2 separate regions of the Homo sapiens genome follow, and region 2 is linked to region 1. Evidence: fine-mapped expression QTL. A gene starts in region 1. The other region holds a variant in brackets. All regions are shown on one strand. Distances are from middle to middle. Region 1 holds the start of CD14 (CD14 molecule). Region 2 has its middle 22 kb from the start of CD14.

Evidence for each region. PIP is the estimated chance that this variant, and not a neighbour inherited with it, causes the effect.
Region 2: its variant is the best candidate, but not a certain one, in a credible set for the expression of CD14 in whole blood (TOPMed, PIP 0.58).

Annotation. Positions count from the first base shown.
Region 1 is chr5:140,624,439-140,637,205 of GRCh38, forward strand. It overlaps CD14 (CD14 molecule), which reads right to left and starts at 8,737. Exons shown (of 2, transcript NM_000591.4): 1 at 8,631-8,737; 2 at 7,294-8,542. The coding sequence starts at 8,633. The coding sequence ends at 7,418. It also overlaps a transcript of TMCO6 not described here. RefSeq lists enhancers at 7,380-7,881, 7,610-7,669, 7,882-8,381.
Region 2 is chr5:140,604,918-140,617,684 of GRCh38, forward strand. It overlaps a transcript of TMCO6 not described here and the pseudogene RPL36P11. Among named protein-coding and RNA genes, the nearest start is that of CD14, 22 kb to the right of the region's middle. The variant T/C (reference allele first, on the strand shown) is at 7,261.

The sequences.
Region 1 (12,767 bases):
ACTATAACCGCGCTTTAATTTTAGAACATTTTTATCACCCCAAAAAGAAATTCTGTATCCCATTAGAGGTCATTCCCCTTGACCACCCCACTTCTAAGCAACCACAAATCTTTGTGTCTCTATCTATCATCATTTCTTTTTTTATTTTTATTTTTGAAACGGAGTCTCACTCTGTGATCTTGGCTCGCTGCACCTCTGCCTCCCAGGTTCAAGTGATTCTTGCACCTCAGCCTCCCGAGTAGCTGGGGCTAATTTTTTTTTGTATTTTCAGTAGAGACAGGGTTTTGCCATATTGGCCAGGCTGGTCTCGAACTCCTGACCTCAAGTGATCCACCCACTTTGGCCTCTCAAAATGCTGGTATTACAGGCATGAGTCACTGCACCCAACCTCACCATCATTTCTTTCTTTCTTTCTTTCTTTTTTTTTTTTTTTTGAGATGGAGTCCTGCTCTGTGCCCAGGCTAGAGTACAGTGGCATGATCTTGGCTCACTGCAACCTCTGCCTCCCAGGTACAAGTGATTCTTCTGCCTCAGCCTCCTGAGTAGCTGGGATTACAGGCGCTTGGCACCGCGCCTGGCTAATTTTCGTATTTTTAGTAGAAACGGGGTTTCACCGTCTTGGCCAGGCTGATCTCAAACTCCTGACCTCATAATACATCCGCCTTGGCCTCCCAAAGTGCCAGGATTACAGGCGTGAGTCACTGCACCCGGCCTCCATCATTTCTTGACTGGGTTATTGGTATAAATTCCCAACGAGTCTTCTAACTTACTCTCTATAGTTTACTTTCAACACAGCAGCTAATGTGATCCTTTAAAAATGGAAACCAGTTTATGTTACCCTTTGTCAGTATCCTCAGGTGGCTCTCTATTTCACCTGAGTGAAAACCAAGCTTCACAGTGGCCTGTGAGCCTTAAACAACAATTGAGGCCACTTGCTATCTCTCTGATATCATTGCCAATGTCTTCCAGGGCCTTTGTACTGGATGTTTCCTCTTCCTGGACTGCTCTTCCAGCAGATAACTACAAGGCTCACTCTCTCACCTCCCTTAAATCTTTGCTCAGAAGTCACCTCATGTGAGGTCTATTCTAACAACTATAAACTTGCAATCCTTCACCCTTATGCCCAGCAATCCTGACTGTTTTGGCTCAGCTCTATTTTCCCCACAGCACTTACCATCATCTAGCACTTTATACTTTCTTCTCCCCACTGCAATATGAACACTTTAAGAGCAGGAACTTTTGTCGCTTTGCTCACTATAAGTGCTTTGTCCTCAGCACTTCCAAAGTGCTTGTCAGGTAGTGGGAGCTCAATAAATAATTGTTAAATGGATGAATAAATTAATGACCAGAACATTCCAGGCAGAGGGAAGAACAAGAGGCAAAGGAAAGAATGGCTAGAATATGTTGGGGGTGATGTTGGTTTACAAGGTGGAGATGACAGTAGAGGAGGCATAGGGAGTTGCTGACCATGTCTCCCTATGTTCTCTGTCTCAAGTTCTAAGTTCTCTTCCTATTTCTCTGTCTCCTTTGAAGACCCTGCTTTCTCCATCCTGAAATGTTGACTGATGATTCCCAGTTTCCTTCTTTAGCACGGTCTCTTCTTTCTCCCCTCCTGGCCTGGGTGAACTTACTCATGGCTATTCATGGCTACGGTTTCCACAGGCATTTCTACACTGATGGCTCCCAAATTCTTATAGCCAGGCCAAACCTGTCCCCTAAGCTCTAGCCCCTATGGCTAACTGCCTACTGGACTGTCCACCTGTGAGTGGCTCTAAGCAACCTATGCCCAGTCTTCTTTTTTTTTTGAGATGGAGTCTTGCTCTATCACCCAGGCTGGAATGCAATGGTGTACTATTAATGTCAAACCCAATTCTTAATAAAACCTTATAGAAAAAGATATCCAATTTTAATCAGTTTGACCATAAGGTAAGAGTCTCATAAACCTTTTATTACCCTTTATATATTTTTTCTTTATTTTTTAAGACAGAATCTCACTTTGTCACCCTGGCTGGAGTGCAGTGGCATGCTTTCAGCTTACTGTAACTTCTGCCTCCTGGGTTCAAGTGATTCTCCTGGCTCAGCCTCCCAAGTGTCTGGGATTACAGGCATTGTATCCCATTAGAGGTCATTCCCCTTGACCACCCCACTTCTAAGCAGCCACAAATCTTTGTGTCTCTATCTATTATCATTTCTTTTTTTATTTTTATTTTTGAAACAGAGTCTCACTCTGTGATCTTGGCTTGCTGCACCTCTGCCACCATGCCACCATGTCATGCTAATTTTTTGTATGTTTAGTAGAGATGGGGTTTTGCCATGTTGCCCAGGCTGGTCTTGAACTCCTGACCTCAGGCAATCCTCCTGCCTTGGCCTCCCAAAGTGCTAGGATTACAGGCATGAGCCAAAGTGCCCAGCCTATATTTTACTGTTAAAGAGCAGATCAGTGCTCTAAGAAAACTCTATTGTGCTTTTATTCCAATGTTCAATTTATGGAAAAATTGAATACCCCTTTAACTTTAGCCAGTATGTCCACAGACAGAATTTATATTTCATAAACCTGCCACAACTTGCTCAAAGCTTCTACTTTTCCCTATCCAACTTAAAATAATACTTTAACCCCCTAAACTAGGCAAAAAAAAAATCCACATTCCTGTGCCTTCTTATAATCTTTTGCCAAAAACACATTCACTTTCCTTACGCACTTTCCATGTAAAACTGTTTCTCTACTAGTCTCAATTGCATATGTTACAATGTTACGTCTCAGCAACTTTTTTTTTTTTTTGGTGAAAAACCTGGTAAGTAAGCAATTTTAATTATGTACCAGGTGTGGAGCCTAGGACACCAGACAGAAGTGCAGATAAGGTCTGATCTTTCCAGCATAGCTAGAGGGCATGGCTAACTCCACATGTCTCTAGGCATTACCTAGAATCTAATGGTTCCAAAGCAGGTAAGTTGAACAATGATCATATCAAGGAAGCAGTTTATGTAGTTTAGTAAACTCAGTGTCTGACCTGCCTAATTTAGACCAAATGTATAAATTTTGAAGACATTTTTATTTTACCAATAATCTTTAAAACTGTCTTTATTTCCCAAGGATTACTAAAGTCATATGAACTAAAAGGCATTAAAGTTTTAATTTTTCTGACAAAATATTTAAGTGCTTTTTCTTTAAGCCAATTAATTAGAGCTCTTTTATATAAACATTACACACACACAACATATGTAAATAGACAGACAGAAGAAGATCCAGTTATTGTAAGCTTTTTCATTTGCCAGTTTTTACATTTTTCTTTTCTTTTTTTTTTTTGAGATTAGCCAGGTGTGGTGGCGGGCGCATGTAGTCCCAGCTACTCAGGAGGCTGAGGCAGGAGAATCACTTGAACCTGGGAGGCAGAGGTTGCAGTGAGTCAAGATTCTGCCACTGCACTCCAGCCTGGGTGACAGAGTGAGGCTCCATCTCAAAAAATAAAAAAAACAAGTAACATATCTGATTGCAATATGCTGTGAAGACAAGTAAAACAGAGAAAGGGAGCAGATATTGTTGTTGAGGATTGATATGTATACAGGTTGACTATCTTTTTTTTTTTTTTGAGACAGAGTTTCACTCTTGTTGCCCACGCTGGAGTGCAGTGGCGCAACCTCGGCTCACCACAACCTCCGCCTCCCAGATTCAAGTGATTCTCCTGCCTCAGCCTCTGGAGTAGCTGGGATTAGAGGCATGCGCCACCACACCCAGCTATATATATATATTTTTTCCCATTTTATGAAACCTATCACAACTTACACAGACCATCTATGACATGCTTGGATATTCTGACTTGTCCTATATTTCCCTCTTTCTTAGGTCTGTTTCTGTTCCCTGAAATGTAAACTTGTGACTAAGATACCTAACCTCCTGAAATTGCGGCCCAGCAGGTCTCAGTCTCATTTTATCCAGCCCCTGTTCAAGATGGAGTTGCTCTGATTTGAATGCCTCTGACAGATGCACTTTACGGCTTTTCTTTTCTTTTCTTTTTTTTTTGAGACAGAGTCTCACTCTGTCACCCAGGCTAGAGTGTAGTGGTGAGATCTCAGCTCACTGCAACCTCTACCTCCCAGGTTCAAGTGATTCTCCTGCCTCAGCCTCCCAAATAGCTGGGATTACAGGAGCACACCACCACATCTGGCTAATTTTTGTATTTGCAGTAGAGACAGGTTTCACCATGTTGGCCAGGCTGGTCTTGAAGTCTGGAGACCTCCAGTGAGCCACCCACCTCGGCCTTCCAAAGTGCTGAGATTACAGGCATGAGCCACCATGCCCAGCCATTTTATGGCTTTTCTTGGCATATCTGAATTGTGGGCATCACTATTCTTGTGCTGGGGGTCCATTATTAAGTAAAATAAGGGTTACTGAACACAGGCACTGCTATATGGTAACTGTTGATCTGACAACCCAGACAGCTCCTAAGTTACTAACGAGCTAGTAGTGCCTACAGTGTAGATACACTGTACAAAGGGATGATTCATATCCTGGATATGTGATGGGTTACAATCCAAACAGTTAAAACTTTAGGTTGGGTGCAGTGGCTTATGCCTGTAATCCCAGCACTTTGGGAGGCAGAGGCAGGTGGATTACCTGAGGTCAGGAATTCACAACTAGCCTGGCCAACATGGTGAAACCCTGTCTCTACTAAAAATACAAAAATTAGCAGGGTGTGGTAGTGCATGCCTGTAATCCCAGCTACTCAGAAGGCTGAGGCAGGAGCATCACTTGAACCCCAGATGCAGAAGTTGCAGTGAGCTGAGATCAAACCACTGCACTCCAGCCTAGGTGACAGAGAGAGACTCTGTCTCAAAAAACAAAACAAAACAAACAAAACCCAAAAAACTAAAAAAAATAATAATAATAAATAAATAAAATGTTGCAGTATTTGCACATAACCTACATACATCTCCCACATGCTTTAAATCATCTCTAGATTACTTATAATTCCTAATACAATGTAAATGCTATGTAAATAGTTGTTATACTATATTGTTTAGGGAATCATGACAAAAATATTGTATAAAGTTATCTTCAGGCTATTATCTAAAGTGTATATGAAACATAAATGAATTTTGTATTCAGACTTGGGTCCCATCCAAATCTATCTCATTATATATACGCAAATATTCCAAAATCTGAAAAAATCCAAAACTTCTGGTCTGGAGCATTTTGGATAAAGGATAGTCAACCTGGCTGGGTGTGGTGGCTCATGCCTGCAATCCCAGCACTTTGGGAGCCCGAGGCAGGCAGATCACCTGAGGTTGGGTGTTCAAGACCAGCCTGACCAACACGGAGAAACCCTGTCTCTACGAAAAATACAAAATTAGCCAGGTGTGGTGGTGCATGCCTATAATCCCAGCTACTTGGGAGGCTGAGGCAGGAGATTTGCTTGAACCTGGGAGGTGGAGGTTGCAGTGAGCTGAGATTGCGCCATTGCACTCCAGCCTGGGCAACAAGAGTGAAACTCTGCCTCAAAAAAAAAAAAAAAAGGATAGTCAACCTGTATAACATATCAATCCTCAACAATATCTGCTCCCTTTTTTTTTTGAGACGGAGTCTCACTCTTTCGCTCAGGCTGGAGTGCAGTGGCGTGATCTTGGCTCACTGCAACCTCTGCCTCCCAGGTTCTAGTGAGCAATTCTCCTGCCTCAGCCTCCTGAGTAGCTGGGATTACAGACACATGCCACCACACCCGGCTAATTTTTGTATTTTTAGTAGAGACAGGGTTTCATCATGTTAGCCAGGGTGGACTCGATCTCTTGACCTCGTGATCCGCCCACCTCAGCCTCCCAAAGTGCTGGGATTATAGGCATGAGCCACCACACCTGGCCCAGATATATTACTCTTTAAAAAAAATTTTTTTTTTTGCAATCAGATATGTTACATCACCACTACTGCCTTAGTCAGCTCAGGCTACCGTAATAAAATACCATAGACTGGTGGCTTAACCAACAGAAATTTATATATATTCTCACAGCTATTTCTCACACATAAAAAACTATCTTTTATGTGTTCCCCCGACCCCCACTGGATTGGAATTCCCTAAGGGCATGGATGTTTCTGATTCATCTTTGTATTTCAGGCTTTAGCACAAGGCCTGAGGTGAAATGTGGTTCTGTAACCATTTGATGAAGTGTGATCAGAGCTATTCAAGGGAAGAAAAAAACTGCCTTGAGATGATTAATTCTCTGATACTAGAAATCTCTCAACTGGCTGGTTGAAGGCCCCTTGGGGACATTCCAGTGAGTGTCCAGCTAATTTAACTGTTTTCTGACATATTTTGAGTCTGGTTCTGGTAATGTCTGTAACTCTCTTATCAATGTTAATTTCCATTCCCTATTCCTATCTGTGTGGCTCTGGACATTGGCCAGAGGCAGGTGCTGGGCCTATATGCCTCCTCCCACCTTTCTCCCATGCTCCCTGTGAGGCAGGCATCTAGCTCTCTGATGGATGTGGCTGCCTCCTCATTGAAATGAAGAAGGGGCTCAGAAGAAACAGCACCTCTTGATGGCTGATGCTGTAGGTCTCTGAGCTAATGTGGACTAGAGGACAAATCCTGTTTATTCTGAAGTTTTGAAGAGTCTGAGATGCTTTCCTATTTGCCAATCAGTCAGCCTGAAAAGGTTATCTGCATATGTGTTCTAACAGAACACAGGATCTCTAATTCAGAGACCGACTGTATCTTGCGTCAGTTCCCTAGGCCCAAATTTCCCATTATGTCGGGGAGTGACACAGTGAAAGCCTCCGGGTGAAGAGAGGTTTTACAAGAGAGGAACCCTAATATTATGAAACTCAGAGCTTGTGCAGGATAGGAGGCTGTCCCTCTTCCTTGAGTGGTAAGGGAGACAGACAGAGAGGGAGAGGGAGGGTGTGTGAGTGTGTGTGTGTGTGAGAGAGAGAAAGAATAAGGAAATAAGCAAATGGCTGTGGGTTTTATTACCTTTGAAAGGGAGCAGCTGGCTCTTGGGAAGTGCATAGGAGAGGAAATATTTTGTATCTTCCAAATATCATGCAAATACCTTTTAATCCAGATGCCAATAATCTGCTCAGAAAGCCCTGACTGCACACTCATTGTTTCTCCCATGCAGCCCTAGCCAGGAGTCCTTTCCTGGCTCCTTCTATCCCCGCAGTTCTTTTCTTGAGGAGGACAGATAGGGTTTCTTAGGGAGTTAGGATGAAGAAAGCCTAAGTATGATGAATTCCCCATCCAGCACTGTGCCCAGCACATAGCAGACATCCAATAAAGGTCTGTTAAATGAATGACACGGACCCGTTGTTTAAGATTTTAATAAAGGTGGGGCAAAGGGTTGAATTGGTCGAAAAGTCCTCAACGTCCTGACGGGACTCCCCTGAAGCCAAGGCAGTTTGAGTCCATTCATTATTCTGTCTTGGATCTTAGGCAAAGCCCCGGGCCCCTTGGAGCAGCACCAGGGTTCCCGACACCCCCACCGACAGGGTCGAACGTGCACAGGCTGGGACCACGCCGGAGTTCATTGAGCCCTCGTGGGGGAGGGCAGTTCCAGGGACCAGGAAGGGATTCCCGTCCAGTGTCAGGTTATCCACCTCGGGCAGCTCGTCAGGCTGCGGCGCCCTGTTCAGTCTGTTGCAGCTGAGATCGAGCACTCTGAGCTTGGCTGGCAGTCCTTTAGGCACCTGTTCCAGCCCAGCGAACGACAGATTGAGGGAGTTCAGGGCGCTGGACCACATGCATCTCGGAGCGCTAGGGTTTACGGTGGCGCGCAGCGAGTTGTGGCTGAGGTCTAGGCTGTGGGGCTGCACACCTGCCGCCGCCAGTGCGGCGCACACGCCTGTGGGCGTCTCCATTCCTGTGTTGCGCAGCGCTAGATTCTGGATGGCCGGGAACTTGTGGGGACAGAGAGCCGCCATCAGTCCGCGTTCGCCCAGTCCAGGATTGTCAGACAGGTCTAGGCTGGTAAGGGCCGGGAAGGCGCGAACCTGTTCGCAGGAAAAGGCAGGCGAGTGTGCTTGGGCAATGCTCAGTACCTTGAGGCCTGGCTTGAGCCACTGCTGCAGCTCGGCGAGCCAAGAACGCCCTGTCGCCCACGACACGTTGCGTAGGCGCAAGCTGGAAAGTGCAAGTCCTGTGGCTTCCAGAGGCAGCGGAGGCATGGTGCCGGTTATCTTTAGGTCCTCGAGCGTCAGTTCCTTGAGGCGGGAGTACGCTAGCACACGCAGGGCGCCTACCAGTAGCTGAGCAGGAACCTGTGCGGCTCCCACTGTGAGCCGCCGCACGCGGAGAGCCTTGACCGTGTCAGCATACTGCCGCGGGTCGGCGTCCGCATCGACGCGCTTTAGAAACGGCTCTAGGTTGAGACCGCCGGCATGGATCTCCACCTCTACTGCAGACACACACTGGAAGGCTTCGGACCAGTCGGGCTGAGGTTCGGAGAAGTTGCAGACGCAGCGGAAATCTTCATCGTCCAGCTCACAAGGTTCTGGCGTGGTCGCAGAGACGTGCACCAGCGGCAGCAGCAGCAGCAACAAGCAGGACGCGCGCTCCTGGGGAGAGAGCAGAGGTCTAGGAGGCCCCATCCAACCCCTGTGGCTCCCGAGTGGCACGCGTTCGACCCCAAGACCCTACACTCACCATGGTCGATAAGTCTTCCGAACCTCTGAGCTCCGGACAGGCTCTGGAAGTGCTTTAGCTTCTTTCCTACACAGCGGCACCCGCCGGCTTCCAGGCTTCACACTTGTGAACTCTTCGGCTGCCTCTGACAGTTTATGTAATCCTGGGATGTCATTCAGTTCCCTCCTCTGTGAACCCTGATCACCTCCCCACCTCTCTTCCTCCGAGCCAGCCCCCTTCCTTTCCTGGAAATATTGCAATGAAGGATGTTTCAGGGAGGGGGACCGTAACAGGAAGGATTCTGCAGGGCATCTAGGGTTCTGTGTCTCCTGGCAGTGTCCTGATGACTCAGGCGCCCCAGGCGGTGAATGCCCTGTTGACTCGGGAGCCTAAGCCTTCTCTGGTGGGTGTGGGAAAAGGATGATCCTCAGTGCCTTAGGCCAGTACCATACTCTGCACTATCCAACCCCCCAATCCCCCTACCTTATATCCCAGAGAATCTACTTGATTCATTTCTTTGACTTCTTCCTTGTCTTGGTTTATGTTGATCTCCTGCCACCAAATCCAAGTCCCTGAATATCCTCAGATATTTAACTGCATGTTTTGTGGAAGAGATTGTGAACCTCATCTGTTGGCACCAAGGGGGGTAGAATTAGGTTCAAGAAAAGGAAGTTGGTCTAAAGAAAAATTCCCCCTTCCTTTTTTTTTCCTTGCTCCTTTGATTAAGTAATAACTTTCTTTCTTTTTTTTTTTTTTTTTTGAGATAGAGTCTTGCTCTGTTGCTCAGGCTGGAGTAGAGTGCCATGATCTCGGCTCACTGCAACCTCCGCCTCCTGGGTTCAAGCAATTCTCTGCCTCAGCCTCCCGAGTAGCTGGGATTACAAGTGCCCACCACCACACCCAGCTAATTTTTGTATTTTTTAGTAGAGACAGGTTTTCATCATCTTGGCCAGGCTGGTCTTGAACTCCTGACCTTGTGATCCACCCGCCTCGGCCTCCCAAAGTGCTGGGATTACAGGCGTGAGCCACTGTGCCTGGCAGTACTAACTTTCTTAAAAGTGGATGTATTTAACAGAGACACATTGGCCAAGTCTCTGGGTCACTTACACTATCCATTTTCTGTCCTGAAATTGTGAAGCAAGGTATTTTGAATCAGTTTTCCCACTTGCACGTTGCTCTCTCCTGCCCTCCCCTCAGTACAATCTCTGTGCCCTAGGAAGGAAGGGATGGGACTATGTTGAATGAGGATTAATTAGTAACTCACCAGTTTCGCAAAAAACAGACAAAAACAGAAAACAAAACAAAATGAAAAAAACAGCAAACAAAACAAAACAAAAAAACAACAAATGTCCCAGAGAATAAGGAGCTACGCATTTACAACAGCCCTCACAGGTCCACATCCCTAGACCTCTGGGGAAAGAACTATATGAAAGTCTTTTTTTTTTTTTTTTTTTTTGAGACTGAGTTTGGCTCTGTTGCCCAGGCTGGAGTGCAGTGGCGTGATCTTGGCTCACTGCAACCTCCGCCTCCCAAGTTCAAGCAATTCTCTTGCCTCAGATTCCTGAGTAGCTGGGATTACAGGAGCCCACCACCATGCCCGGCTAATTTTTGTAGTTTTAGTAGAGACAGAGTTTCACTATGTTGACCAGGCACTCCTGACCTCAGGTGATCCGCCCGCCTTGGCCTCTCAAAGTGCTGGGATTACAGGCGAGAGCCACCACACCCGGCCTGAAAGTCTTTTTTACTTTTATTTATTTATTTGAGACGGAGTTTTGTTCTTGTTGCCCAGGCTGGGCGCGATCTCAGCTCACTGCAATCTCCGCCTCCCAGGTTCCAGCAATTCTCCTGCCTCAGCTTCCCGAGCGGCTGGGATTACAGGCATGTGCCACTACACCCGGCTAATTTTGTATTTTTAGTAGAGATGGGGTTTCTCCATGTTGGTCAGGCTGGTCTCGAACTCCCGACCTCAGGTGATTCACCTGCCTCGGCCTCCCAAAGTGCTGGGATTACAGGCATGAGCCACCGTGCCCGGCAGAAAGTCTTTTTTAAATTCCCACTTCCTCTTTAATTGAGAAAGAAGTAGCTGCAGATTTGTCCCCAATCCAAACAAGAAGGCTCATCACTGCCCCCTGCGGGTCCTGTTGGGCATACCCCAATGCACTGGGCCATGCCCTGGTGCCATGCCAGGCCTCTGTGATATCCCTGAGGACCAAGATATGATTATATCTGACTCAAAGTCAGATAGCCAGTCTTGGAATCCCAGCTTTACGACTGAGGTTATGAGACTTGGGCCTCCCTTCTGTAAAATGGAGATGATAGTATTACCTGTTTGTGAGTAAAGTCTTTGGCACAGAAACACATCTTTTTAGTGTGGTCTTGATGACTAGTCTTCTTTCTCAGAGTCTCTGCTTTCAGAGAACTCAGGCCACTGAAGTCTGACACCTCATCATCTTAGGGGAGGCACTCTGGGTGGGGAGTTCCAAGTTAAGAGGGGCAGTGATGGTTCTGCAAAGATCTCCAACTCACAGCTTGATTCAACAAATGTCTATCATTTGTCTACCGAGTACTAGGGTTGGTAGAAAGCCCTGGGACACAGACATGACAAAGACAAGTCCCTGAAGTGCTCCAGGAGGTGGGTAGAGCAAACATGAACCCAGAACTTCCGTCCATAGTGCAGAGGGCTCTTAAAAGAAGAGAAACCAAAGGCTTGTGTTGTTGGGGGAGAGGGGTGGAGGGGAGGAACATGGTCTGGAGAAAGGAACAGCCAGCCCTGTACAAGACAGGACATGGGGCTGGTTCTTACAGGGTTAACAGTGTTGCTAGACAGGTAGATACAGAAAGGCAATTTGGGCAGCTGTAGCTGTCTGAGCAGACACTGGGCAGAATATAGCTTTTGGCTGGGAACTTTTTTCATCTTCCCCACCTGGAGCACATGTGGGTTTTGTTGTTGTTGTTATTGTTGTTGTTTTAGATGGAGTTTCACTCTTGTTGCCCAGGCTGGAGTGCAATGATGCAATCTTGGCTCATCGCAACCTCCACCTCCTGGGTTCAAGCGAGTCTCCTGCCTCAGTCTCCTGAGTAGCTGGGATTACAAGCACGTGCCACCACACCTGGTTAATTTTGCATTTTTAGTAGAGACGGGGTTTCACCATGTTGGTCATGCTGGTCTCGAACTCCTGACCTCAGGTGATCCACCTGCCTCCATCTCCCAAAGTGCTGGGATTATAGGCATGAGCCACCTTGCTGGGCCAAGTGTGGGTCTTAGAAGCTAGCCTGGGTTAGGTGCAGTGGCTCATGCCAGTAATTCTAGCACTTTGGGAGGCCAAGCTGAAAGGATCATTTAAGGCTGAGTTCCAGGCTGTGATAAGCCATGATTGCACTACTGCACTGCAGCGTGGGCAACCGAGCAAGACCCTGGCTCAAAAAAAAAAATAAATAAATAAAATAAAAATAAAAAAGTTTTTCTTGGGGAAATAAGAAAATAAATTTTTTTTAATTAAAAAATTAAAAAAAGAAGCCAGACAGTTGCATGAGGAAGGGCTCAAGATCCAGGCCCTATCCCTGGCCAGAGCATGGTGCACAGCAGGTACTCAGTAAATGGCTCTCCAGGGGCTGGATGGATACTGGGAGAGAAGATATGGAGGATGGAATGATGGCCTGTAGATATTTTAACATGCTGTTTTGTGGAAGAGATTGCAGACTTCATTGATTAACTCCAAGGGGTAGAATTAAGTTCAAGGGAAAGAAATTGGTTTTAAGAATAACCTTTTTCCTAGATTTGTACTTAATTGAACCTTTGCCTAAGTTATATGGCTTTTTAAAAATTAGAGGTTTCCTGTAAAAATTCTTAGGTGCCACCGGGACCCTAATCTTCTGGAGCTGCCAAGGGGGTCTGGGAGGAGACAACATCAAATAATTACACTATAACTTAATGATAGCTGTGAAAAGGGTTGTGAAGAAGCTGGGTCATTGGTACAATGGTTCTGAGTAGGTGACACTGGACTTGACATGTTGAGAATGGTGTTGAGGGAAGGATGCTGGTAGAAAGAAAAGGGAAGGATGCAGGCAGAGAAAACAGCTTGTGCGAGAGCCTCCCCCAAGAGTGGGAGTAGGGTGGAGGAGAAAAAGAACAGGGCTTGTTGACAAAGAGAAGGTCCC
Region 2 (12,767 bases), 20 kb before region 1:
CTAATCCTATACAGTTGTTCTGTGTCAATATTAAGTCTTCCAATGCATAAACATTGAAGGGATGTCTTTCCATTTATTTAGGTCTTCTTTAATTTATTTCAGCAATGTTTTCTAGTTTTCATTTTATAAGGTTTTAACCTCTTTGGTAATTGTATTCCAAGGAATTTTATTCTTTTTGAAAACATGTAAATGAAATTATTCTCTTAATTTCCTTTCTGGATTTTAAATTGCTATTGCATAGAAACAACTAATTTTTGTGTGTTGATCTTGTAGTCTGAAACTGCTTAATTTATTATCCCCAATAGTTTTTTTGTGAATTCTATGAGACTTTCTATTTATAGAATCATATCATATGCAAATACAATTTTACTTCTTCCTTTCCAAATTGGATGCCTTTATTTATTTATTTTTCTTGCCTAGTTTCTCTGGCTAAAACTTCTGGTACGGTAGTAAATATAAGTGGTAAAAGTGGCATCTTTAGGCCAGGTGTGGTGGTTCACGCCTGTAATCCTAGTGCTTTGGGAGGCTGAGGCGGGTGCATCACCTGAGGTCAGGAGTTCGAGACCAGCCTGACCAACACAGTGAAACCCCATTTCTACTAAAAATACAAAAATTAGCTGGGCATGGTGGTGGGTGCCTGTAATCCCAGCTACTTGGGAGGCTGAGGCAGGAGAATCGCTTGCATCCAGGAGGCAGAGGTTGCAGTGAGCTGAGATCTCGTCGTTGCACTCCAGCCTGGGTTACAGAGCGAGACTCTGTCTCAAAAAAAAACAAAACACACACACACACACACACACACACACACACACACACACACACACAAAGAAAGAAGATGTTTCCTCCTTTTCTGTTTTTTGAAAGAGTTTAAGTAAGATTGGCATTAAGTCTTTTTAATATTTGGTAGAATTCACCAGTGAAGCTATCTGGTCTTGAACTTTTTTTTGTTGTGAGATTTTTGGTTACTGATTCAATCTCTTGTTATAAATATGTTGTTGAGGCAGTTTTGGCAATAAGTGTGTCCTAGGAATTTGTCCATTTCATCTAGATTACCTAATTTGTTGGCATATCGTGTTCAAAATATTTTCTTTCAATCGTTTTAATTTCTGTAAGGTCAGTAGTAATGTTCCACTTTAATTAACCTTCCTTCTTCCTTCCCTCCCTCCCTCCCCCTTCCCCCCCTTCTTTTCCTTCCCTTTCCTTTCCTTTTCCTTTTCCCCTTCCTTCCTTCCTTCCTCCCTCTCTCTTTCTTTCCTCTTTTTTTTTTTTCCAGGGTCTCATTCTGTCACCCAGGCTGGAGTGCAGTGGTGTGCGGCCTTGAACTCCTGGGCTCAAGCACTCCTCCTGCCTTAGCCTCCCAAGTAGTTAGGACCACAGATGTGTGCCACCAGGCCTGGCTAAATAAACAAAAAAATTGTAGAGATGGGGTCTGTCTATGTTGCCCAGGCTGGTACTTTCATTTCTGATTTTAGTTATTTGTACTTTCTTTTTTTTCTCAGACTAAAGGTTTGTCAATTTTGTTGATCTTTTAAAAGAACCAACTCTTGGTTTTACCGATTTTCTATTTTTTCCATTCCTTATTTTGTTTATCTATGCTCTAATTTTTAATTTTAATTCTGGCAATATATACATAGTCATGCACCACATAATAATGTTTTGGTCAAACTTGAACAGTATAAACAAGGGTGGTCCCATTAGATTATAATGGAGCAGAAAAATCTCTATTGCCCAGCTGGGTGTGGTGGCTCACGCCTGTAATCCTAGCACTTTGGGAGGCCGAGGCAGGCAGATTGCCCAAGCTCAGGAGTTCGAGACCAACCTGGGCAACACGGTGAAACCCTGTCTCTACTAAAATACAAAAGAAATTAACTGGGCATGGTGGCATGCGCCTGTAGTCCCAGCTACTCGGGAGGCTGAAGATGACAGCTCCATGCTTATTAATTGCCCCTGAAGACCTTCCAGTGGGACAAGATGTGGGGGTGGAATACAACGATGTTGATGAGCTTGACTCTGTGTAGGCCCGGGCTAATGTGTGTGGTTTGTGTCTTAGTTTTTAACAAAATAGTTTAAAAAGTAAAAAAAAAAAATAATAATAATAATAATGGAAAAAACCTTATAGACTACTGTTTAAAATAAAATTTGCTATTTTGGCCATTTTTAAGTGTATAATAAATACAGTGGTATTAATTGCATTCACAATATTGTGCAACCATTGCTACTATTTACAATGCTTTTCATCATCCTAAACAGAAACTCTGTACCCATTATGCAATAACTCCCTGTCTCCTCTCCCTCTAGAACCCATTAACCTTTAATCTACTTACCATCTGACTAAGCTTACCTATTATAGATACTCAGCATAAGTGGAATCATACAATATTTGCCTTTTTGTGTCTGGCTTATTTCACTTAGCATAATGTTGTCAAGGTTTATCTATGTTGTAACATGTATCAGACGTCATTACTTTCTGTGGCTAAATAATATTCCGTTGTCTGTGTATACCACATTTTATGTATTCATTTATCCACTAGTGGACACTTGAATCATTTCCATGTTTTAGCTATAGTGTATAGTGTTGATATGAACATTTTGGTACAAAATTTTGTTTGGATATGCCTTTCCAATTCTTTTGGGTATATAATGAGGAGTACAATTATTGGATTATATGGTAAAATTAATTATATATTTAACTTTTTGACAAACTGCTAAATTATTTTCCACAGTGGCTGTACCATATCACATTCCCACCGAAAATTTATGAGGGTTCCTTCTTCTCCACCTTCTTGCCAACACTTGTTTCCAATTTTTTTTATTGTTGTTGATTAGTGCTATACTAGTGAGTGTGAAGTGGTATCTCATTGTGGCTTTTCTATTTTCTTTTTTTTTTTTTTCTGAGACAGGGTCTCTCTCTGTTGCCCAGGCTGGAGTGCAATGGCGCAATCTCGGTTCACTGCAACCTCCGCTTCCCAGGTTGAAGTGATTCTCCTGCCTCAGCCTCCCAAGTAGCTGGGATTACAGGCACTCACCACCAGGCCTGGCTAATTTTTGTATTTTTGGTAAAGACAGGGTTTCTCTATGTTGGCCAGGCTGGTCTCGAAATCCTGACCTGAAATGATCTGCCCGCCTCGGCCTCTCCAAGTGCTGGGATTACATGCGTGAGCCACTGCGCCCAGCCTCTCATTGTGTTTTTGGTTTGCATTACCTTAATGGCCAATGATTTTGAGCATCTTTTCTTATGTTTGTTAGTCATTTATTATAATTTCTTTGTGGCAATGTTCAGTCAAGTTCTTTGCCCAGGTTTTAATTTGCCTGTTTGTTTTTGGTATTTTACTAATGAATAATAATGTTGAGCATCTTTTCATGGACTTTCAGGCATTTGTGTGCCTTTGGAGAAATGGCTATTCAAGCCCTTTTCCCATATTTTTACTTGATTTGTTTGCCTTTTTGTTGCCGAGTTGTAGGAATCCTATATAAACTCTGGGTAGTAAACCATTACCAGGTATATAATTTGCAACATTTTCTCCCATTTTGTAGGTTGTCTTTTCACTTTATTTGGTAATGCCTTTTGATGCACAAAAGCTTTTAATTTTGAATTCCAGTTTATTATTATTTATTTTGTTGCTCAGGCTTTTGGAGTCATATCTAATAATCCACTGCTAAATCAAAGGCCACAAAGATTAGTTTCTGTGTTTTCTTCTAAGAGCTTTATGGTTTTGGCTCTTACATTTAGGTAATCAATTAATGTGGAATTAATTTTTGTATATGATTTGAGGTAAGGGTCCAACTTCATACATCTGCATATGGATATCCAGGTGTCCCTTTGCCATTAGTTGAAACTAGTGTTTCCTTACTGGATGTTCTTGACAACCTTGTCAAAATAAGTTTCCCATAGACATGTGGGTATATTTCTGAACTCTCACTTCTATTCCATTGATCTGTCTGCTTATCCTTATGCTACTACCACACTGTCTTAGTTACTGTTGCTTTGCAATAATGTTTTGAAATCAGGAAGTGTGAGTCCTCCAACTTTGCTCTTCTTTTACAAGGTTGTTTTATCTATTCTGCACCCATTGAACTTCTATATAAACTTTACAATTAGCTTGTCAATTTCTATAAAGAAACCAGCTAGGATTCTTATAAGACTTTCATTGAGATTGAAAAGGAGTAGCCATGGCTCTGTGCCACCCCATGACTGGGGTCTCAGCAAGGGCCCAGGTAATGATGGGGTAAGGAGAAAGCCCAGGCTCAGTCGCCACCACCATGGGCACCTCACCAAGAACACTGAGTTTGTGCAGACCTGGCCTGAAAGGGGTATGGCTTTGCCCCAAACGAGCGGCATGCCATGGAGTTGCTTGAGGTTTCTAAGGACAACTGGGCCCTCAAGTTCATCAAGAAAAGGGTGGGGACACACATCTGTGCCAACAGGAAGCAGGAGGAGCTGAGCAACATCCTGGCCGCCAAGAGGAAAGCAGCTGCCCACAAGGAATGAGCCACCCTCCCCTGTGAGCATAATAAAATCTTTATTTTATTATGGAACTTGTGGTCCTCCTCAGCAGCCTCCCTGGCATTGGAAAGGAGGGGAGGTCCAGTCTGTTCATCTGTTTGGGACCCACCCCCGGGCAGGACCACACCCTGTCCTGGATCCAAGCCCCCTACCTCGGGCATGGGGCAACAGGCATAGAAGCAAGTGCTGGAAATGATTTCTAATCATAATGCAATATCTCATACACACCAAAAAAAAAAGAATTTCATTGAATCTGTAGGTGAATTAGGGGAGAATTGTCATCTTGACAATCATAAGATCTATGAGCATGGGATATTATTCCATTTACTTAGATCTTCTTTAATTCCTTTCAACAACATTTTGTAGTTTTAAGAGTGTAAGTCTGCTCTTCTCTTCTTTTGTTATATTTGTTCCTAAACATTTTATTCTTTTTGCTGCTGTTGCAAGTGGAATTTTTTTCTTTTTTCTTTTTTTGAGACAGAGTCTCACTGTCACCCAGGATGGAATGCAGTGGTACTATCATAGCTCACTGCAACCTCAAGCCCCAGGGCTCAAGTGAGCCTCCCACCTCAGCCTCCCAAGTAACTGGGACTACAGGTGCAAGCCACCATGCCTGGCTAATTTTTTTTTTAAGTTTTGGTAGGAACAGTCTGGGCACAGTGGCTCACGCCCAGAATCCTAGCACTTTGGGAGGCTGAGGTGGGCGGATTGCCTGAGCTCAGGAGTTTGAGACCAGCCTGGGCAACATGGTGAAACCCCATTTCTACTAAAAAAAAAAAAAAAAAAAAAAAAGCCAGGCGTGGCAGCATGTGCCTGTAGTCCCAGCTACTCAGGAGGCTGAGGCAGGAGAATTGCTTGAACCCAGGAGATGGAGGTTGCAGTGAGCTGAGATCATGCCACTCCACTCCAGCCTGGCGACGGCACAAGACTCTGTCTCAAACAAACAAACAGAAAGTTTTAGTAGGAACAATGGTCTCCTTGTGTTGCCTAGGCTGGTCATGAACTTCAGGGCTGAAGCACTTCTCCCGCCTCAGCCAACCAAAGTGCTGGGATTACAGGCATGAGCTACCACACCTGCTCAGAGTTGTTTACTTAATTTAATTTTCAGAATGTGCATTCTAAGTGTATTGACATACAATAGATTTTTGTATATTGATTTTGTATTTTGCAATCTTGCTGAACTTGCTGATTAGTTTTCATGTATTTTAGTGAATCACTAGGAGTTTTTAATATATGTGATTATATAATCTGTGAATTGACATCATTTTACTTCCTGCTTTTCAACCTGGATGCCATTTATTTCTTTTACTAATTTTCATGGCAAGAACCTCTAGTACAATGTTGAATAGAGGTGGTGAGAAAATACATCCTTGTTTTGTTGCTGATCTTAAGGCAAAAGCAGTCTTTTACTATTAAGTATGATATAAACTGATTTTTTTTGGCAGATGTCCTTTACCATGCAAGAAAGTTCCCTTCCTTCCTTTTGTTGAGTGTTTTTTCGTGAGAGGTGTTGAATTTTGTCAAATGCTTCTTCTGCATTTATTTAAATAATCACGTGGTTTTTTATTTCTAATTCTATTTTTCTGATGTATTACATTAATTTTCAGATGTTAAACCTGTAAGAATTAAAGAGGAAAGAAACATGAAAGGCAGCTCAACAAAGACAGGTTTATTTTGGAGCATAAACCTGAGAGGGGCTTCTAACCAAGTTAGGTCAGAGCCACTCTCTCTTCCAGACTAAGAGTTTTTAAGGGTTCAGGGCAGGAGAGCTTATCATAGGCTCAGAATGTTTCTGTGTCTCTTTGTCTTGCTTATCTGGGAGGCACAGTTTTGTGTCTGTTCCCATACATCTTCCTGCAGCTACAGGCATACTTCCCATCACTCCCGCCACCCCCAGTCTGCTTTTAGCTTCCCTATCTCAGTGCACCTAAAGGAAAAGGAATGTGCTTATCAGGGCCCACTGTTTTACTGGGGCCTATTGTATGAGTGTGAAGTTTGGTGGTTACCCAGGAGATTTTCCCCTCTCCCTCTGTGCCTGAGCTGTCTTGTCTGTGTTTTACTGTCTGCGCTTTGTGGCTGCTTGTTGTTAGAATAGAAATGATTTCCTTGAAATGCATGAGGTTAGAAAAGGAGCTGGAACTTAAAGTGGCAGTGTTTGTCCAAGATGACAGTGCTCCTGCTCTGTCAAAACCATCATTGCACTCCTGGCATAAATCCCAATTGGTCATGGTGCATAATTATTTTTATATGTTGCTTGATTTGGTTTGCTAGTGTTTTGTTGAGGATTCTTGTGTCCATACTCATAAGACATATTGGTCTGTAGTTTTCTTTCCTTGTGATGTCTTTGCAGCCATTCTTTCTTAAACTTAACCACAAGATCAGACCTATCATACACAATATCATATGTAAAAAAGAATAAGCAATTTTTAGATAGCCTAAAAGATTCAAGTCAGTGTTCAATGTCTTCCATTACATGTGATTTTAAATGTTTTATAAAGAGCCTCCCATGATCTGGTAAATGAGGGGCTCTGAGCATTAGAAGAAGTGGGGTTTGTGTTGGAGAAAAGAAGACTGGATGGGAGAGAGCAAGTTTTTTTTGAGAGCAAAACTCTTGACTTAGTGTAGAACAACAACAAAAACACACTAATGTCATTTTGATTCCAGATGACAGAGCAGGAGCAAAAGAGGAAGTTTACAGGGAAACTGATTTGAGATCAGAAAAGGAAGTCCTACAACCACAACATTCCACTGTTTCAGCA[T/C]AAAGTCTGTCACATCACACCAACCATCCGACCACAAAGTGCCATGTAGAAGTGGAGCCCTTGCATCTCTCAGTCCATTTCCCGCTCCTTGCCTCACTTCCTTCCCTGTTTAGGGCACATTATTCAGCCTTGCTTTATTAACACAACTTGCCCAATCTTTTTTTTTTTTTTTTTTTTTTTGAGACGGAGTCTCGCTCTTTCACCCAGGCCGGAGTGCAGTGGTGCTATCTCGGCTCACTGCAAGCTCCGCCTCCCGGGTTCACGCCATTCTCCTGCCTCAGCCTCCCGAGTAGCTGGGACTATAGGCGCCCGCCACGGCGCCCGGCTCATTTTTTGTATTGTTAGTAGAGACGGGGTTTCACCGTGTTAGCCAGGATGGTCTCGATCTCGCGACCTCGTGATCCACCCGCCTCGGCCTCCCAAAGTGCTGGGATTACAGGCGTGAGCCACCGCTCCAGGCCAACTTGCCCAATCTTAGGGCCTCTCTGAGGATGCCCTGCACCCCGACCTCCGACCTTGGTTGAATGAATCCTGTCCCCACACTGCTGGACAAAGTTGAAAACAAAAGATCACAATCCTTGAGACTGGAACCATGACACATAGTTTATGGTCTTCAAACTCAGTTCAGCAAATATTTTTACTTGACTTTAGTGAAGTAAAATACTATTCACTGTTTCCTCACTTTCCTTTTGGTCTAGTCCTCAGCCCACTCTTCAATCAATCAAATCAGTGAAGATTTATGGAACATTTGCCATGTACCAGGCACTGCTTCAGAGGCTGGAGATACAAAACTGAACAAGAGCAACACAATCTCTGGTCTCATGGAATTTTCAACCCAAAAAAGATACAAATAAAGAAGACAATTTCTGATAGAGATAAATGCTGTGAAGAAAATCATGCATGATGTTAGGATAGAAATGATGCCAGGAGGGGCCGGGCACGGTGGCTCATGCCTGTAATCCCAGCACTTTGGGAGGCTGAGGCAGGCCAATCACAAGGTCAAGAGCTCGAGAGCATCCTGGCCAACATGGTGAAACCCTGTCTCTACTAAAAATACAAAAATTAGCTGAGTGTGGTGGCATGCACCTGTAGTCCCAGCTACTTGGGAGGCTGAAGCAGGAAAATCGTTTGAACCTGAGAGGCAGAGGTTGCAGTGAGCCGAGATCGTGCCACTGTACTCCAGCCTGGCAACAGAGTGAGACTCTGACTAAAAAAAAAAAAAAAAAAAAAAAAAAAAAATGGTGGCAGGAGTAGCTCCTTTCAGATGGGGTGACATCTGAGTTGAATTCTAAACAGTGAGCCACACCTACCCATCAGCATCTTTGCCCAGAAACTTTGCCTTCCAGCAGAGTGAGACTACAAATTGACTGTTTCGGTTTTTACACTAAAACTAATCCCTCCACTTGTGAACTAGGTACCAGTCCCTTTTATCTACTCAAGAACATTGCTCCAGCAGGACTCCCTTTTCTCCTGTCTCACCAAGTTTTCCGTCTACTGTTTCTATCTTCATACAATCATGCTATTTCTATTATTATTATTATTTTTATTTTTAAATACAGTTGTGCCCAGCTGGAGCATAGTGGTGCAATCATAGTTCATTGCTCATTGTAACGTCAAACTCCTGGCCTTAAGCAATCCTCCTGTCTCAGCCTCCCAAAGCACAGGGATTACAGGCATGAGCCACTGCACCAGGCTCATCTCTCATCGTTTTTTTTTGTTGTTGTTGTTGTTGTTGTTTTGAGAAGGAGTCTCACTCTGTCGCCCAGGCTGGAGTGCAGTGGTGCGGTCTCGGCTCACTGCAACATCCGCCTCCCCGGTTCATGCCATTCTCCTGCCTCAGCCTCCTGAGTAGCTGGGACTACAGGCGCCCGTCACCATGCCCAGCTAATTTTTTTGTATTTTTAGTAGAGACAGGGTTTCACCGTTTTAGCCAGGATGTTCTGGATCTCCTGACCTTGTGATCCGCCTGCCTTGGCCTCCTGAAGTGCTGGGATTACAGGCGTGAGCCACTGAGCCCGGCCATCTCTCATCTTAAAAAACAACAAATGCGGCCAGGCACAGTAGCTCATGCCTGTAATCCCAGCACTTTGGGAGGTTGAGGAGGGCATATAACCTGAGGTCAGGAGTTCAAGACCAGCCTGACCAACATGGAGAAACCCCGTCTCTACTAAAAATACAGAATTAGCTGGGCGTGGTGGCACATGCCTGTAATCCCAGCTACTTGGGAGGCTGAAGCAGGAGAATTGCTTGAACCCGGGAAGCAGAGGTTGCAGTGAGCTGAGATCAAACCATTGTACTCCAGCCTGGGTGGGCAACAACAGCGAAACTCTGTTTTAAACAACAACAACAACAACAAATGTAACAGCATACTCACTGGTAAGAAATTGAAAGCTTTCCCTCTAAGGTCATGAACAAGGGAAGTACTTTCTTTCTTTCATTCCTTTTTTTTTTTCGAGACAGAGTCTCGCTCTGTCACCCAGGCTGGAGAGTGCAGTGGCACGATCTTGGCTCACTGCAAGCTCAGCCTCCCAGGTTCACGCCATTCTCCTGCCTCAGCCTCCCGAGTAGCTGGGACTACAGGCGCCCGCCACCACGCCTGGCTAATTTTTTGTATTTTTAGTAGAGACAGGGTTTCACCGTGTTAGCCAGGATGGTCTCGATTTCCTGCCAGCCTCGGCCTCCCAAAGTGCTGGGATTACAGGCATGAGCCACCTCGCCCAGCGGGAAGTACTTTCAATACTTCTTTTAACATAGCACTGTAAGTCCTAGCCAGAACAAGTAGGCAGGAAAAAGAAATAGAAGGCATCCAAATTGGAAAGGAAGAAGTAAAATTAATCTCCATTCGTAAATGACATGATCTTATATGTAGAAAACCCTAAAAATTCCAAAAAGCCTGTTATAACTAATAAACAAATTTAGTAAAGTTGCAGGATACAAAATCAACACTGAAAAATCACTGTTTCTATATATTAACCATGAACAATCTGAAAAGGATATTAAGAAAACAATTTCATTTACAATAGCATGAAAAAGAATAATAAAATACTTAGGAATAAACTTCACCAAGGAGACAAGACTTGTACAATGAAAACTACAAAATGTTTCTCAGAGAAATTAAAGATACAAATAAACAGAAAGTTAATCCATGTTCATTGGTAGTCTTAATATTTTTATGATATCAACACTCTCTAAAGTGATCTACAGATACAATGCATTTCTTAGCACAATTCAATGGCTTTTTTTTTCAGAAATGGAAAAATTCATTTCAAAATTCATATGGAACCTCAAGGGATCCTGAATGACCAAAACAATCTTGGGAAAAAAAAGAACCAAGTTGGAGATCTCATACATCCTGATTTCAAAACTTATCACAAAGTTGCAGTAATCAAAACAGTGTGGTACTAGCATAAAGACAGACACATAGACCAAGGAATAGAATAGAAATCTCAGAAATAAGCCCTCACATATGTGGTCAAATGATTTTGACAAAGGTGCCAAGACTATTCAATAGATAAAAGAAAGTCTTTTCATACTACGGCACTGGGGAAAATAGATATTCACCTGCAAAAGAATGAAGTTGGATCTTTACTTTATACCATATGTAAAAATTAACTAAAAATTGATCAAATTGCTATAAGAGCAAAAAGTATAAAACTCTTAGAAGAAAACATAAGGCTAGGTGCAGTGGCTCATGTGTGCAATCCCAGCTCTTTGGGAGGCCAAGGCAGATGGATCACGAGGTCAGGATTTCGAGACCAGCCTGGCCAACATGGCGAAACCCTGTCTCTAGTGAAAATACAAAAAATTAACCAGGCGTTATGGCAGGCACCTATAATCCCAGCTACTCAGGAGGCTGAGGCAGGAGAATCACTTGAACCCAGGAGGTGGAGGTTGCAGTGAGCCGAGGCCATGCCACTGCACTCCAGCCTGGGCAACAGAGCGAGACTCCATCTCAAGAAAAAAAAAAGAAGAAGAAAGAAAGCATAGTGAAAAAAAGCTTCATTAGATTTAGCAATAATTTCTTGGATATGGCACCACAACCAACAAAAGTAGAAACAGATAAAGGGACTACATTAAAATCTAAAACTTTTGTGGCCCAGGCATGGTGGCTCATGCCTTTAATTCCAGTACTTTGAGAGGCCAAGGCCAATGCGGGAGGATTGCTTGAGTTCAAGAGTTCAAGACCAGCCTGGGCAACATAGTAAACCATATCTCTACAAAAAAAATTTTAAAAATTAGCTGGGCATGGTGACACCGGCCTATAGCCCTAGCTACCTAGGAGGCTGAGGTGGGAGTAGTGCTTGAGCCCAGGAGTCTGAGGTTGCAGTGAGCTATGATCACGCCACTGCACTCCAACCTGAGTGACAGAGAGACCTTGTCTCTAAATAATAAAAACATTGAAAATTTAAAAAATAAATAAGACTCTGTGCATCAAAGGATGCAATCAGCAGAGTAAAAACGCAATGTATGGAATAGGAGAAAATATTTGCAACTCATATATCTGATAAAAGGTTAATAACTAGAATATATGAAGAACTCCTGCAACTCAATAACAGCAAAACAACATGATTAAAAAATGGGCAAAGGTCCAGTCATGGTGACTGATGCCTGTAATCACAGCACTTTGGGAGGCCAAGGCAAGTAGGTCATTTGAGCTCAGGAGTTTGAGACCAGCCTGGGTAACATGATGAACTCTATCTCTACAAAAAATAAATGTTAGGCAGGTGTGGTGACACGTACCTGTAGTCCCAACTACTCAGGAGGCTGAGACAGGAGGATCACTTGAGCCTGGGAGGTGGATGTTGCTGTGAGCCGAGATCATGCCACTGCACTCCAGTCTAGGCTACGAAGCCAAACCGTCTCAGGCAAAAAAAGAAAAAAAAAAAAGTCAAAGTACTTGAATAAACATTTCTCCAAAGAAGATATATAAATGACCAATAAGCACATGAAAGATACTCAAGGTCTTGGCTGGGTGCAGTGGCTAACACCTGTAGTCCCAGCACTTTGGGAGGCCAAGGTGGGCAGATCACTTTAGGTCAGGAGTTCAAGACCAGCCTGGCCAACATGGTGAAACCCCGTCTCTACTAAAAATACAAAAATTAGGCTGGGTGTGGTGGCTTACACCTGTAATCCCAGCAGTTTGGGAGGCTGAGGTGGGAGGATCACTTGAGGTCAGGAATTCGAGACCAGCCTGGCCAACATGGCAGAACCCCGTCTGTACTAAAAATTAGCCAAGTGTGGTAGTGCACACCTGTAATCCCAGCTATTAGGGAAGCTGAGGCAGAATTGCTTGAACGTAGAGGGCTGAGGTTGCATTTAGCCGAGATCGCACCCTGTACTCCAGCCTGGGCAACAGAGTGAGGCTTTGTCTCAAAAAAACAAAATAAATACAAATACAAATACAAAAATTAGCCGGTGTGGTGGTGCATGCCTGTAGTTTTAGCTACTCGGGAGGCTGAAGCAGGAGAATCGCTTGAACCCAGGATGCGGAGGTTGCAGTGAGTGGA